3 separate regions of the Homo sapiens genome follow, and regions 1 and 2 are each linked to region 3. The links come from fine-mapping of genetic effects on gene expression. A gene starts in region 3. Each other region holds a variant in brackets. All regions are shown on one strand. Distances are from middle to middle.

Region 1 (4,244 bases), 81 kb after region 3:
TGAGGTCAGGAGTTTGAGACCAGCCTGACCAACATGGTGAAAGCCCATCTCTACTAAAAATACAAAATTATCCAGGCGTTGTGGCACATGCCTGTAATCCCAGCTACGTGGGAGGCTGAGGCAGGAGAATCACTTGAAACTGGGAGGCGGAGTTTGCAATGAGCTGTGATCACACCATTGCACTCCAGCCAGAGCAACAAGAGAGAAACTCCATCTCAAACAATAACAACAACAAAAAACAATATATATATGTGTGTGTGTATATATATATTATATATATATTTATAAATATATTGCAATCCGATTTGCTTTCCATGACTGAAGATCTTTGAAGACAGGATATGTGTCTTACTGTTTTAAGCTTTTTCCATTTCCTAGCCTCTTGAACAGTTCCATGTACTGACCTAAATCAATGTTGGCTAGATCGTGTTGAAATGACAAAGCACCCTTTAAATAACAAAGCATGAAGAAAATAGTGACTTGAGTTTCTTGAAGAACCATACACTTTCTAAGGGATATTAGTGCTGTATATGCAACAAATGAGAACACTAAGAAGGGTGTTTTATCAGCTATGTTTCCTGTTGATCCTGTGAAAGAAAATTATGTTCATAAAGTGGAAAACTGTATTTTTTCAACCTCCTTCTCAACTCCTTTCAAATCAAGAGTATGTCTTGTAGCAGTTTCAAAAGTTAGGCATTATTTTTTCACCACACAAATACTTAACTCACTAAAATATTTGTTTAAAATAATTTTTAGAGTTAATATTATTAGTCTAATTATACATGATTACCTGTGTTTAAAATTCAAATACATGGAGATGTCATTCTTAGAAATCACACTTTGAGGCCAGGTGCTGTCACTCATGCCTGTAATCCCAGCACTTTGGGAGGCCGAGGCAGGTGGATCACCTGAGGTCGGGAGTTCGTGACCAGCTTGACCAACATAGAGAAACCTCGTCTCTTTTGGACCTTGATTTATCTGTGTCAGAAGTAGATGATTTTTATCCTGCTTATAAGTGGCCAAAAGGTAGTGTTTGGATCCATTCCACTGGCTCACTGATATGGGGGCCACCAGGTAAGAGTAGCAACAGCACAACTTCCCTTATGCAAATAGAATTATTTGATGGAAATGCTGTCCTACTAAGGAAATTATTTTTGTGTTAAGTTTTAAATTAGTGCATTGGGAGTTCAACAAGATGTACCTAAAGGAATATGTCATCAGAAGATGTTTATAGATTAGCTGATGTGATTTCTTGCTGTGCTAAAGCTAGAACTTAATTCTTTGAATGGCATTGAGAATACTGGAGCAGCAAAAACAGAAAATTTCTGTGGATTATTGCTAGAGAACTCACTCAGTGCACTTTTGGCAAGAGATTTTGGCAAAATGAAGCAGTACAACGTGTGAATATAAAAGGACAAATAAGCCAGGTGCAGTGGCTCACGCCTATAATCTCAGCATTTTATGAGGCCGAGGCAGGCAGATCACTTGAGCCTAAGAGTTCAAGATCAGCCTGCGCAACATGCGAAACCTTGTCTCTACAAAAATTAGCCAGGCATGGTGACATGTGCTTGTGGTCCCAGCTATTTGGATGGCTAAAGCAGGAGGACTGCTTGAGCCTGGGAGGCAGAGGTTGCAGTGAGCCGAAGTTGTGCCACCACACTGCAGCCTGGGTGACAGAGTGAGACCCTGTCTCAATAAATAAATAAATAAATAAATAAATAAATCAGATAAAAAGAAGGATGAATAGATTATAATTATATCAACATAGCCATAGAACATTGTTGTATGACTACTAGAATGGGAGTAAATCAAGATTCCTTGGGGGTGTTATATGTGCTGCAGAAATCAGGAAGGAATTAAGGAACATTCTGGAAATAAAGCAAGATGTTAAAACAAGTTCAGGGTATGGTATCTGACTAATTAAAAAAAGAAACGGGAACATAAGACCAATTGTTGAATTTCTGTGACTTTCCTGTAAGCTAGATAAGATTAACACTCTCTGGTCGTTTGGGGGTTTTTTGGTAAGGCTGGTTTGGTCAGGAACAATTTTTAAGACAAATAGTAAAGTATCATAGGGTTGGTGTAGGATTGAATTAGGAAATACATGAAAAGTGCTTAACATGTGAACTATTACAATTATTATAACATCAGGTTCTGGTTTGCTGGGTTAGTTATTTCCTTTCTTCTTCAAAGTCCTG[T/A]AGACTAAGAGGCAAAGTAATCAAGCCATTAGGAGGACTTTAAGGGTCACCTGTGACAAACTTGAACATCAATTTCTTTTTCTTTTCATCTTTTATGTTCAGGGGTACATGTGCAGTATGTACCAGTTTGTTACATAGGTAAACATGTGCCATGGCGGTTTACTGCACAGATCATCCCATCACTCAGTTATTTATTTATTTATTAATTTATTTAATGTATTTATTTTGAGACGGAGCTTTGCTCTGTTGCCCAGGCTCTAGTGCAGTGGCTCGATCTCGGCTCACTGCAGCCTCCGCCTCCTGGGTTCAAGCGATCCTCCTGCCTCAGCCTGTCAAGTAGCTGGGATTACAGGCATGCACCACCTCACCTGGCTATTTTTTTTTTTTTATGTATTTTTAGTAGAGATGGGGTTTCACCATGTTGGCCAGGCTGGTTTTGAACTCCTGACCTCAAGTGATCTGTCCACTTCGGCCTCCCAAAGTGCTGGGATTATGTGTGAGAGCCACCGCACCCAGCCCCCATCACCTAGTTATCGAGCTCAGCATCTGTTAGCTATTCTTGCTGATGCTCTCCCTGCCCCCAACTCCCCTACAGTTGCCCAGTGTGTGTTGTTCCCCCCGGTGTGTCCATGTGTTCTCTCTCAGTCAGCTCCAGCTGAAAACTGAGAAGATGCGGTGTTTGGTTTTCCATTCCAGTGTTAGTTTGCTGAAGGTAATGGCTTCCAGCTCCATCCATGTCCCTGTAAAGGACATGATCTTATTCCTTTTTATGGCTGTACATATTGCATGGTGTATATACACCACATTTTCTTTACTCAGTATATAATTGATGGGTATTTAGGTTGATTCCATGACCTTCCTTGTAAATAGTGCTGCAATGAACATACACGTCTATCTCTCTTTACAATAGAATGATTTATATCCCTCTGGGTATATACCCAGTAATGGGGTTGCTGGATCAAATGGTATTTCTACCTCTAGGTTTTTGAGGAATCACCACACTGTCTTCCACAATGGTTGAGCTATTGACACTTTCACCAGCAGTGTAAAAGTGTTCCTTTTTCTCCACAACCTTGCCAGCATCTGTTGTTTTTTGACTGTTTAGTAATAGGCATTCTGATTGTCATGAGATGGTATCTTCTTGATTTGCATTTCTCTAATGATCAGTGATGTTGAGCTCTTTTTCATGTTTGTTGGCTGCATGTATGTCTTCTTTTGAGGAGTGTTGGTTCATATCCTTTGCCCACTTTTTAATGGGATTGTTTGTTTTTTTTCTTGTAAATTTCTTAAGTTCCTTATAGATTCTGGATATTAGACCTTTGTCAGATGGAAAGGTTGCAAAAATTTTTTCTCATTCTGTAAGTTGTTTCTTCACTCTAATGATAATTTCCTTTGCTGTACAGAAGCTCTTCAGTTTAATTAGACCCCATTTGTCAATTTTTGCTTTCATTGAAATTGCTTTTGGAGATTTTGTCATGAAATCTTTGCCCATGGCTATGTTTTGAATGGTATTGCCTATATTTTCTTCTAGGTGAACCTCAGTTTCTTGATCTGTAATGTGAGAGGGCTGATCCACGTCATTCCAGTTGTGAGAAGTGCTATGGCGAAGACATCTGCTTAATTTTATTTAACGCACCAATTTCCAAACATTTGACTGCAGGGTTTTGTTGTTTTGTTTAAGTCATTACTATTAACGTTTTGCTGAACTGTTTCTCAGTTTAGAAACTTCTGAACTAAATGACCCTTTTGGTCTTTTCTAGTGCCCAAATGCAGGGATTCCACGGTTCAAAAAGCCATCTCTCATCTGGATTAAATGCATTTGAAAGCATTTTATGCTGGTACTCACATGCACTGTTGAAGAACCAATACAAGCCTTAAACCCTGTAGAGTTGTTTTTTTTTGTTGTTTTTTGTTTTGTTTTTGAGATGGAGTCTCACTCTGTCACCCAGGCTGGAGAGCAATGGCGCAGTCTCGGCTCACTGCACCATCCACCTTCTGGGTTCAAGCAATTCTCCTGTCTCAGCCTCCCGAGTAGCTGGGACTACA
Region 2 (4,244 bases), 44 kb after region 3:
TATGGAGTTTTCATAAGCTGTGGTGTAGTATTACTGCCCTATATTATTAATTATACACTGTTCGTAATATATTATTATCCTTGCACTTCCTCTCTAACGTCCAATTTCACCCCAGCTTTTGCGCTCCCCTCACCTCCAGTATCTCACTAAAATTTTCATAAAGGAATAAAGTTTGCTGCATTTTCAGGGTCAATCTAAATAACCCCACTCAGGTATAGCTGGTACTTGTAAAGACCTCACAGCCAGACACCAAAGATTGTGTTCCACTTGAGTGAAAATCACAGGGTTGACGATTGTCATGAGAACCCTCTATTCATGGACTTGCCTGGTTCTATTTGTCAGCGTTTTCTTAACATGAGTGACTCCATTTTGATTCTGACAACTTTCATAGCTCTCTTCGCTGAACCTTTCCTGTATTGTCCCAGAGATCTGCATAAAGACCATTATGTAGTCAGGTATCAGAAAAGCTGTGTCTTTCACATGGACACAAAGAGGGGAACAACATACACTGGGGCCTGTTGTGGGGGATTGAGGGGAGGGAGAGCATCAGGACAAATAGCTAACACATGCTGGGCCTCGTATTTAGGTGATGGGTTGATAGGTTCAGCAAGCCACCATGGCACACGTTTACCTATGTAACAAATCTGCACATTCTGCATATGTATCCTGGAACTTAAAGTAAAACAAAATTTTAAAAATTTTTGTAAAAAGAAAAGCCGTATTATTACTGTATCTGACATCAAAAGAACATGATATACTAAAACTGGAGAGTTACTGTTCCTGAGATAAAATTTAATGTGAAGCAAATTTACCTTCTATCCTATTTCAAGCATATGCTTAAAAAAATTAAGAACACATTGCCAGTTTTAGTTAGTAAATATTTTGGTTTTAAAACTAAATTTGCTTCATTTTAAATTTCCATTTAGCCTGAAGGGGTGTCCAATCTTTTAGCTTCCCTGGGACACACATATGATGCACTAACACTAGCAATAGCTGATCAGCTAAAAAAAAAAAAATTGCAAAAAGATCTCATAATTTTTTAAAGAGAGAGTCTTGCCCTGTCGTCCAGGATTGAGTGCAGTAGCAAGATCTCAGCTCACTGCAGCCTCCACCTCCTGGGTTCAAAGGATTCTCCTCCTCAGCCTCTGGAGTTGCTGGGATTACAGGCATGCGTCACCGCACCTGGCTAATTTTTGTATTTTTAGTACAGATAGGGTTTTGCCATGTTGGCCAAGCTGGTCTCAAACTCCTGACCTCAAGTGATCTGCCAGCCTTGGCCTCCCAATAGTGCTGGGATTACAAGTGTGAGTCACCGCGCCCTACAAAGAGCTTATAATGTTTTAATATTTGTTGGGCAGCATTCAAAGTTGTCCTGGGCCACAGGAGCCCGTGGGTTGAGACAGCATGATCTACAGCTTACTTTTCCCCAAATATTAAAACATACCATTAATTACCTTCCTTAATTTTAAGAAAATAGCCTTTTAGCCCATCCGAAGCCAATTTGAAAGAGAAGAGATATAGGTAAAAAGAGCCTAGGATAAACTGGGCATTAAATGTATCCCTGAGGGAAAACATTCCAGATTGAAATATACATCAGTAAGATTGCTTTTACCTGGCCCTACATTCTTATTTACAGGGTACTTACAGCACTGTAATAATAGAGAATTCAAAAACTATCTGAATAACTATTTTTAAAATTACTGTTATTCAAGCATTAAAAAAGCAAAACCAGGCCGGTCGTGGTGGCTCATGCCTGTAATCCCAGCACTTTGGGAGGCCGAGGCGGGCGGATCACGAGCTCAGGAGATCGAGACCACATCCTGGCTAACACGGTGAAACCCCGTCTCTACTAAAAATAGAAAAAATTAGCCGGGCGTGGTGGCGGGCGCCTGTAGTCTCAGCTACTTGGGAGGCTGAGGCAGAAGAATGGCGTGAACCCAGGAGAAGGAGCTTGCAGTGAGCCGAGATCGCGCCACTGCACTCCAGCTTGGGCAACAGAGCAAGACTCCCTCTCAAAAAAAAAAAAAAAAAAAAGGCGAAACCAAAACAGCCTGTGTCCAGGGCTCCAAGCAATCAAGCAACAGGAATCTCAGAGAAAGAGATTGTCATGTTTTCTCGTTTTCCTCTATTTTCCTGAAAATTCTGAAGGTCGCAGAGGTAGAGCTGAAAATCTAAGGTCACCAAGACTTAAGAAGGCATGGGATGGTGAAAGCTAGTTTTAATTATAGT[G/A]TTGACCTCAAGATCGACTGACCCAATAATCCTTATAGAAATGCAGTAGGAAGAACGTTTAACTTTTATTCATTTGCTGCTTGTGAACATTGATGCTTCGTGCCTGTTGGGGGGGTGGGGCATAGGAGGCCTCTTGGCGACAGCGAGGGGAGGGAGCACGAAGTCCAGGGGGGTCTCCATGAAGTCCGGGGACGGCAGCGGGAGCTCTGGGTACTCCAGGGGCGGCATTGGTGGCTGTGGCGGCAGGAAGTAGTCGGGCGGGGCGGGGAAGACCACGCTGCCTGTGCCCTTGGCCTTGGGGGGTGTGGCGGGGCTGCCACTGGTGTCACAGGACCTCTGCACCGGAGGGGGTGGGGCAGGCTGGACTTGGGGCCTTGGGGGGCCGGGGGTGCTCCTGGCTCCTGGTGGTTCCCGAGGGCTGGCTTCTTATCCTGCAACCAAGCGACAGCAGCATTTATTATTTTAAAGTTTTTGAAATTTTAATTTATTGTTATTAATTAACGGGGACAGGGTCTCACTCTGTCACCCAGGCTGAGTGCATGGCACGATCTGGGCTCACCACAACCTCGACCTCCTGAGCGATCCTCCCGCCTCAGTCTCCTGAGTAGCATTCTTTATTCTTGACAAAAGAGCCCCAGTGGACAAGACCATGCCATAGATATGTGAGGTCTCTGTCTGCTGCCTGGGGGGCCCCCGTCCCTCAGTCACTGAGAACCCTGGTTGTTCATGAGCTCATCTTTGCTCTGGAATAGGGAAATGACTCTAATTGGCCTTTATTATTATTATTATTATTATTATTATTATTATTACTATTATTATTGAGAGAGAGTTTTGCTCTGTCGCCCAGGCTGGAGTGCAGTAGCGCCATCTTGGCTCTCTGCAACCTCTGCCTCCCGGGTTTAAGCGATTCTCCTGCCTCAGCCTCCCGAGTAGCTGGGACTACAGGTGCTGGCTACCACGTCCAGCTAAGTTTGTATTTTTAGTGGAGATGGGGTTTCACCATGTTGGTCAGGCTGGTCTTGAGCTCCTGACCTCATGATCTGCCCTGCCTCTGCCTCCCAAAGTGCTGGGATTACAGGCATGAGCCACCGCGCCTGGTCTTTTTTTTTTTTTTTTTTTTTGTGACGGGATCTCGCTGTGTCACCCACGCTGGAGTGCAGTGGTGCAAGCTCGACTCACTGCAACCTCTGCCTCTAGGGCTCAGTGATCCTCATGCCTCAGCCTCCCAAGTGGCTGGGATGACAAGCATGTGCCACCATGCCCAGCTAATTTTTGTATTTTTTGTAGGGATGGTTTTTTGCCATGTTGCCCAGGCTGGTCTCCAACTCCTGGGCTCAAGTGATCTGCCCACCTCGGCCTCCCAAAATGCTGGAATTACAGGTGTGAGCCGCCTCACCTGGACAGTTTACTTTTTCTCAACTGCATGAAAGTTGGCTGGTTCACCGGGTATAAAATGAGCCCTGTAGTCCCTATTATGACCTGTGTCTCAGATCGTGATGAGATCAAATGAGATACTTATATGAGTTCTGAAAAGAAAAATCACCAGCGTGCTACTGGTAGAAACCAGAATGCCAAATTTGGCTAAAGTCTAATAGAGACATAGCCCTTCCTCTGCCAATACTGGCATAGATAATAATAATTTGTATTTATATAATGAAACATCCCCAGGCAGCTGGATTGAATCCCTCTGTTTTAGTGATAATTATCATTCCAATTTACATTTCATCAGGGCTCCAGTTTATTTCTTCCTCTGCTTAATAGCCTGTTACCACTGAAGATTAAATTTGGAAGATTTTTTTTCTAACGAAGTGCCTTCTGACTTAGTTTCTATTTTATTTAGTTTATTTACTTAGCATGATAAGCTAATTAACTGGCAATGTACTTTTTCCTTTTTAAAAAATTTCTGAACAGGCAGCTTGGGTATTGATGTTCACATATAGTTAAGTGATTTCTATTCTGGGATTCTTTTATTTCTTTCAGCATTTTTAAATGCTTTCCTTCGATTGGCATTATGG
Region 3 (4,244 bases):
AAAATACAAAAATTAGCTGGGGGTCGTGGTGTACGCCTGTAATCCCAGCTACTTGGGAGTCTGCAGCAGGAGAATCGCTTGAACCTGGGAGGTGGAGTTTGCAGTGAGCCGAGATTCCGCCACTGCACTCCAGCCTGGGCGACAGAGTGAGACTCTGTGTCAAAAAAAAAAAAAAAGAAGAAGAAGAAGAAGCATGTAGTGGCATAAGAGGGTGGATGCACCCATCTCTTCAAATACTGGCTTCTTCTGTGGAACTAGAAATATCTGAAGTCTGGAGAGAACAGTCCTGAAATGGATCACAGCAAAGCCTACCTTCCTCCTCTAAGCCTCTTCTCCCACATGCCCCTCACCCCCCATATTCTGTTCTCTTTACTCTCTAGCATTGTCTAGTTGCCCAGCTGCCACTTGGTCTCCAAACGTCTTTTTTGCTTTAGATTTTTTAGAGATAGGGTCTCACACTGTTGCCCAGGCTGGAGTGCACTGGCACTATCACAATAAACAGCTCACTGTAATCTTGAACTCCTGGGATCGAACAATCCTCCTCCCTCAGGCTCCTGAGTAGGTAGAACTACAGGCATGCACCACCCCACCTGGTGAATTTTTTCTATTTTTTATAGAGACAGAGTCTTGCTATGTTGCCTAGGCTGGTCCCAAACTCCTGGCCTCAACCGATTCTCCCACCTCAGCCTCCCAAAGTGCTGGGATTACAGGTGTGAGCCACTGTGCCTGGCCCAAGCCTTGTTTTGGATAATTTGTGATACGCATCTACTTTGGTACAAAGTAGATATTTATAAGTGTTATATATTTCATACTGGGAAATGATGTTTGATGAGAACACGGACACATAAAGTATACCAAATCTGAATTAAAAGAGTACTAAATTCAAATAAACTTAAGTAACAGTGAGTCCATAGATTTTGCACGGTTATGCTAATAGCATGGGCCTACCCCATGGCACACTGAGAATCATTACAAAGCGCAGAAGGGCTCACAGTGTCCATTTACAGGGGCTAAACTGACCAGAAAGGGAGAAAAAGGAGATCGGAACCCAAAGGCAGCAGAGGAGACCCTGAAAGAATGGGCTATCGCTGAGATTCTGACTTTAGATGACTCCAGGGTTTCTCTCCTCCTGACGGCCTCGGGCCTTTCTCCTTCCAGTGTCATTCCAGCCCCATCCAGGTGTGCTCTCCTCCCGAGGCCACTGCTGGACAACTAAGGTCCGGTCCACCCTAGCACCAGCCCTGCATTCTCCACAAGACCTTTTCGGACTATTCCGAGGCCGATTCGATCCTCCGTTTCTCGGAGAGAGCTCTGAGCACTTTGGCTCTAAAATTTCAGGCAAGATCTGTCTTCCTCTAACTCCAAAGTAAATAGCTGCAGTCGCTCTCCAGGCTTAACCTTGTCCATATAGCAGCGGTCAATCTGATCGCTCCTGCGCTTCCCCCAGGACACGGATCCCACCGCTTTCTCCACCCCCCAAAACGCTCCCGGGGTCCCCAGGACACCGCTTTCTGCAACCCCGTGTAGGGCGCCCCTACTTCAGTCCAACGCGCGGCTCCGTCCCACCGCGAGCACCCCTCAGCTCCGGAGTCCCACCCCGGAGCTACCCCGGAGCTACCCCGCGCGCCCCCGCGTCGCGACGCACGTGCTCCCCGCTCCCATTCATTCCGCCCACTGCTGTCATTGGAGCCGTGACCTCTGAGCCCCGCCGGGCGCGCGCCTCCCAACCTCACCTGCGCGCGGACTTCGGCAGCGGCGCTCGGCCCCAACGGTCCCGCACGGCCGGGGGAGCCGGGCCCGGGGCTCCGCGCCGCCGGCTTCCAGGAGCAGCCGCGCCGCCACCGCCACCAGCGCGAGGCCATGGTCGGAGTCTGAAAGTCGCGGCAGGGCGGCGGCTCCGCCTCTGGCCCGCGATCCTCCTCCCGGGACCCGGAGCCGGAAACCTGGCACAGGAAGCGCTTCGGCCAGGCCCGGGAGCGCGGTTCGCTCTTCCTCGCTTGCGGTCCGGCTGCCGGCGCGGACACTTCGGGTGTCTGCCCGTCTGCAGCCAACGGGGACTGCAGCCGCTCCCGGGAGGCGACGGGGCAGGGGCGTGCGGAGACCTGGTCTGGGGACCCCGAGCGTAACCTTCCCCGGGGCGAGCCTCCTATCCCCACCTCTTCCCGGAAGCTGTGCAGGGAGACTGGCCACGCCTGCAGTCATAGCAAAAATGTCCCTGTGGGGACCTTTTATTAGCAAGAAATACTACCGCGCGCCACCCTTGCAGCCACGAACTCTTTTGTTCTGCGTGTTTAGGCAGAAACATAACTCAGAGAATGGGGTTCCCGCTCCGCAGCCTAAGCCGGAGGCGACGGTTTCCGCTGCTGCTTCCCTTGGCAGTGACCTGACACGCCCTGGTCGGCTGCCTTTTGCAATCTGTTCTTGAAGGAAGTTCCAGCCCATCGCATCTTCCTAGAAACAAGTCCGACCACGATCAGGGTTGTTGTGAAATAGTAGCTAAATTAGCCGGGTCTCGTGACTTTTGGACTCTCCCCTCCAAACGCCTTATAGGTATAGTTTGGCAATCTTGCTCACACCTGGGTGTGAACCTGCGTGTACCCAGCCCGGGAGATATTGGAGTCTGTACAGGATTAGTACCCCTTATGGGTTAGAAAGGCCTTCTTTCCTTAGCTCTAAGGCCAGATCTACTGGTGCTAAGAGACAGCGTGTTCCGAACAGAAATTAAGTGATATAAACATTCAGCGCATGCACTCAAACACACAGAGCCAGTGAGATAGGGGGTAAGCATTAGAGATAGAGAAATGCAATTTAGTCCTCAAAAAATTCACTCTAATGAGGAAATAGACCAGCAAGTAGGTAATTGCAGTTCTCTGATTCATGTATTTTCTTGTTCTTGGGTTAAAGAATGCGGTAGCCTCATAGCTGGGTACATTAATTTCATATTTAATCGTGTGGATTTTTTATGGAATGAAGACATCATAGACTATATAAAGACATCTATGAAAATAAGCCAGTTTGATGGTGTTTTTTCCATCTTGAAGAATAGTATGTAAAAATATGCAAAGCTTTATGAGTAAAGATTGTTAATATGCACCTGTAGCTTATCTTGGTTTAGATTAGGTTTATATATTAAGAAACATTCATAAGGTGGAATTTGCCAAGTAGAGTGTAGCAGTAAGCACTTGGGTTGTACTTGATCCTATGACTAAGACATTATCATTTGCCCTTTTTTGTATATAAAGATAAGGAAACATATAGAGGAAATACCGTATGGTCAAATAAGTATCACACTCAAGCTCACCCAGTTGTCAAGTATGTCACTACACAATTTTGTCAGACCATGTTCGTTTAGAGATTGCTTGGCCACATTAAAACAGAAAACATTGCTCTTAAAAAGATGCTGTAGGTCGGGGGCACAGTGGCTCAGCCTGTAATCCCAGCACTGTGGGAGGCCGAGGCAGGTGGATCACTTGAGGTCAGGAGTTTGAGACCAGCCTGGCCAACATGGTGAAACCCGTCTCTACTAAATATTCAAAAATTAGTTGGGCATGGTGGTGCATGTTCTGTAATCCCAACCACTTAGGAGGCTGAGGCAAGAGAATCACTTGAACCTGGGAGGCAGAGGTTGCAGTGAGCCGAGATTGTGCCACTGCACTTCGGCCTAGGTGACAAAGTGAGACTCCGTCTTTAAAAAAAAGAAAAAGAAAAAAAGATGCCGTAGTATTGCAAGGCTAAGTAGGGACAGCAGCTGAAGTTCCTCAAGACTTCCAACGTTACTGTATAGCTAAACTCTTGAGAAAAAACAGTAAGCTACCAATTGGACATACGGAATTCACAAGTAGTTCTTTTGACCCCACTAGGCCAAGCATGAGTTGAGGAAGTTAAAAACACTATCTGAGTTATGCAGGTAAGTGCTAAAGAACAGACTTCTCTTGTGCAGTCTGAAAACAACTTTAGTCTATTTTGCTGCCCTTAGACAAATGAAAAGAGCCAGTACAGATGGATCAAAATGGCCTATGTGTAACTGAAAGCGATCAAGGTTGTCGTTTTGAGGTTGGAGTGTTAGGTACCCTCCAAGACATTTTCTTGCCATATTGATGATACTGTTTAAAACATAATATCTACAATAGGAACAGGTTTTATAGCCAAAGAGATTGTAAATATAGTACCAGGCCAGACACAGTGGGTCATGCCTGTTATCACAGCACTTTGGGAGGCCGAGGTGGCAGGATTGCTTGAGGTCG

The links. PIP is the estimated chance that this variant, and not a neighbour inherited with it, causes the effect.
Region 1: its variant is the best candidate, but not a certain one, in a credible set for the expression of PDSS1 in whole blood (INTERVAL, PIP 0.88).
Region 2: its variant is the best candidate, but not a certain one, in a credible set for the expression of PDSS1 in whole blood (INTERVAL, PIP 0.56).

What each region holds. Positions count from the first base shown.
Region 1 is chr10:26,614,102-26,618,345 of GRCh38, reverse strand. No RefSeq gene overlaps it. Among named protein-coding and RNA genes, the nearest start is that of FAM238A, 26 kb to the right of the region's middle. The variant T/A (reference allele first, on the strand shown) is at 2,199.
Region 2 is chr10:26,651,481-26,655,724 of GRCh38, reverse strand. It overlaps FAM238B (family with sequence similarity 238 member B), which reads right to left. Exons shown (of 5, transcript NR_026794.1): 5 at 2,271-2,660. Among named protein-coding and RNA genes, the nearest start is that of FAM238B, 10 kb to the right of the region's middle. The variant G/A (reference allele first, on the strand shown) is at 2,230.
Region 3 is chr10:26,695,330-26,699,573 of GRCh38, reverse strand. It overlaps PDSS1 (decaprenyl diphosphate synthase subunit 1), which reads right to left and starts at 1,873. Exons shown (of 12, transcript NM_014317.5): 1 at 1,734-1,873. The coding sequence starts at 1,862. RefSeq lists an enhancer at 818-1,706 and a silencer at 1,581-2,200.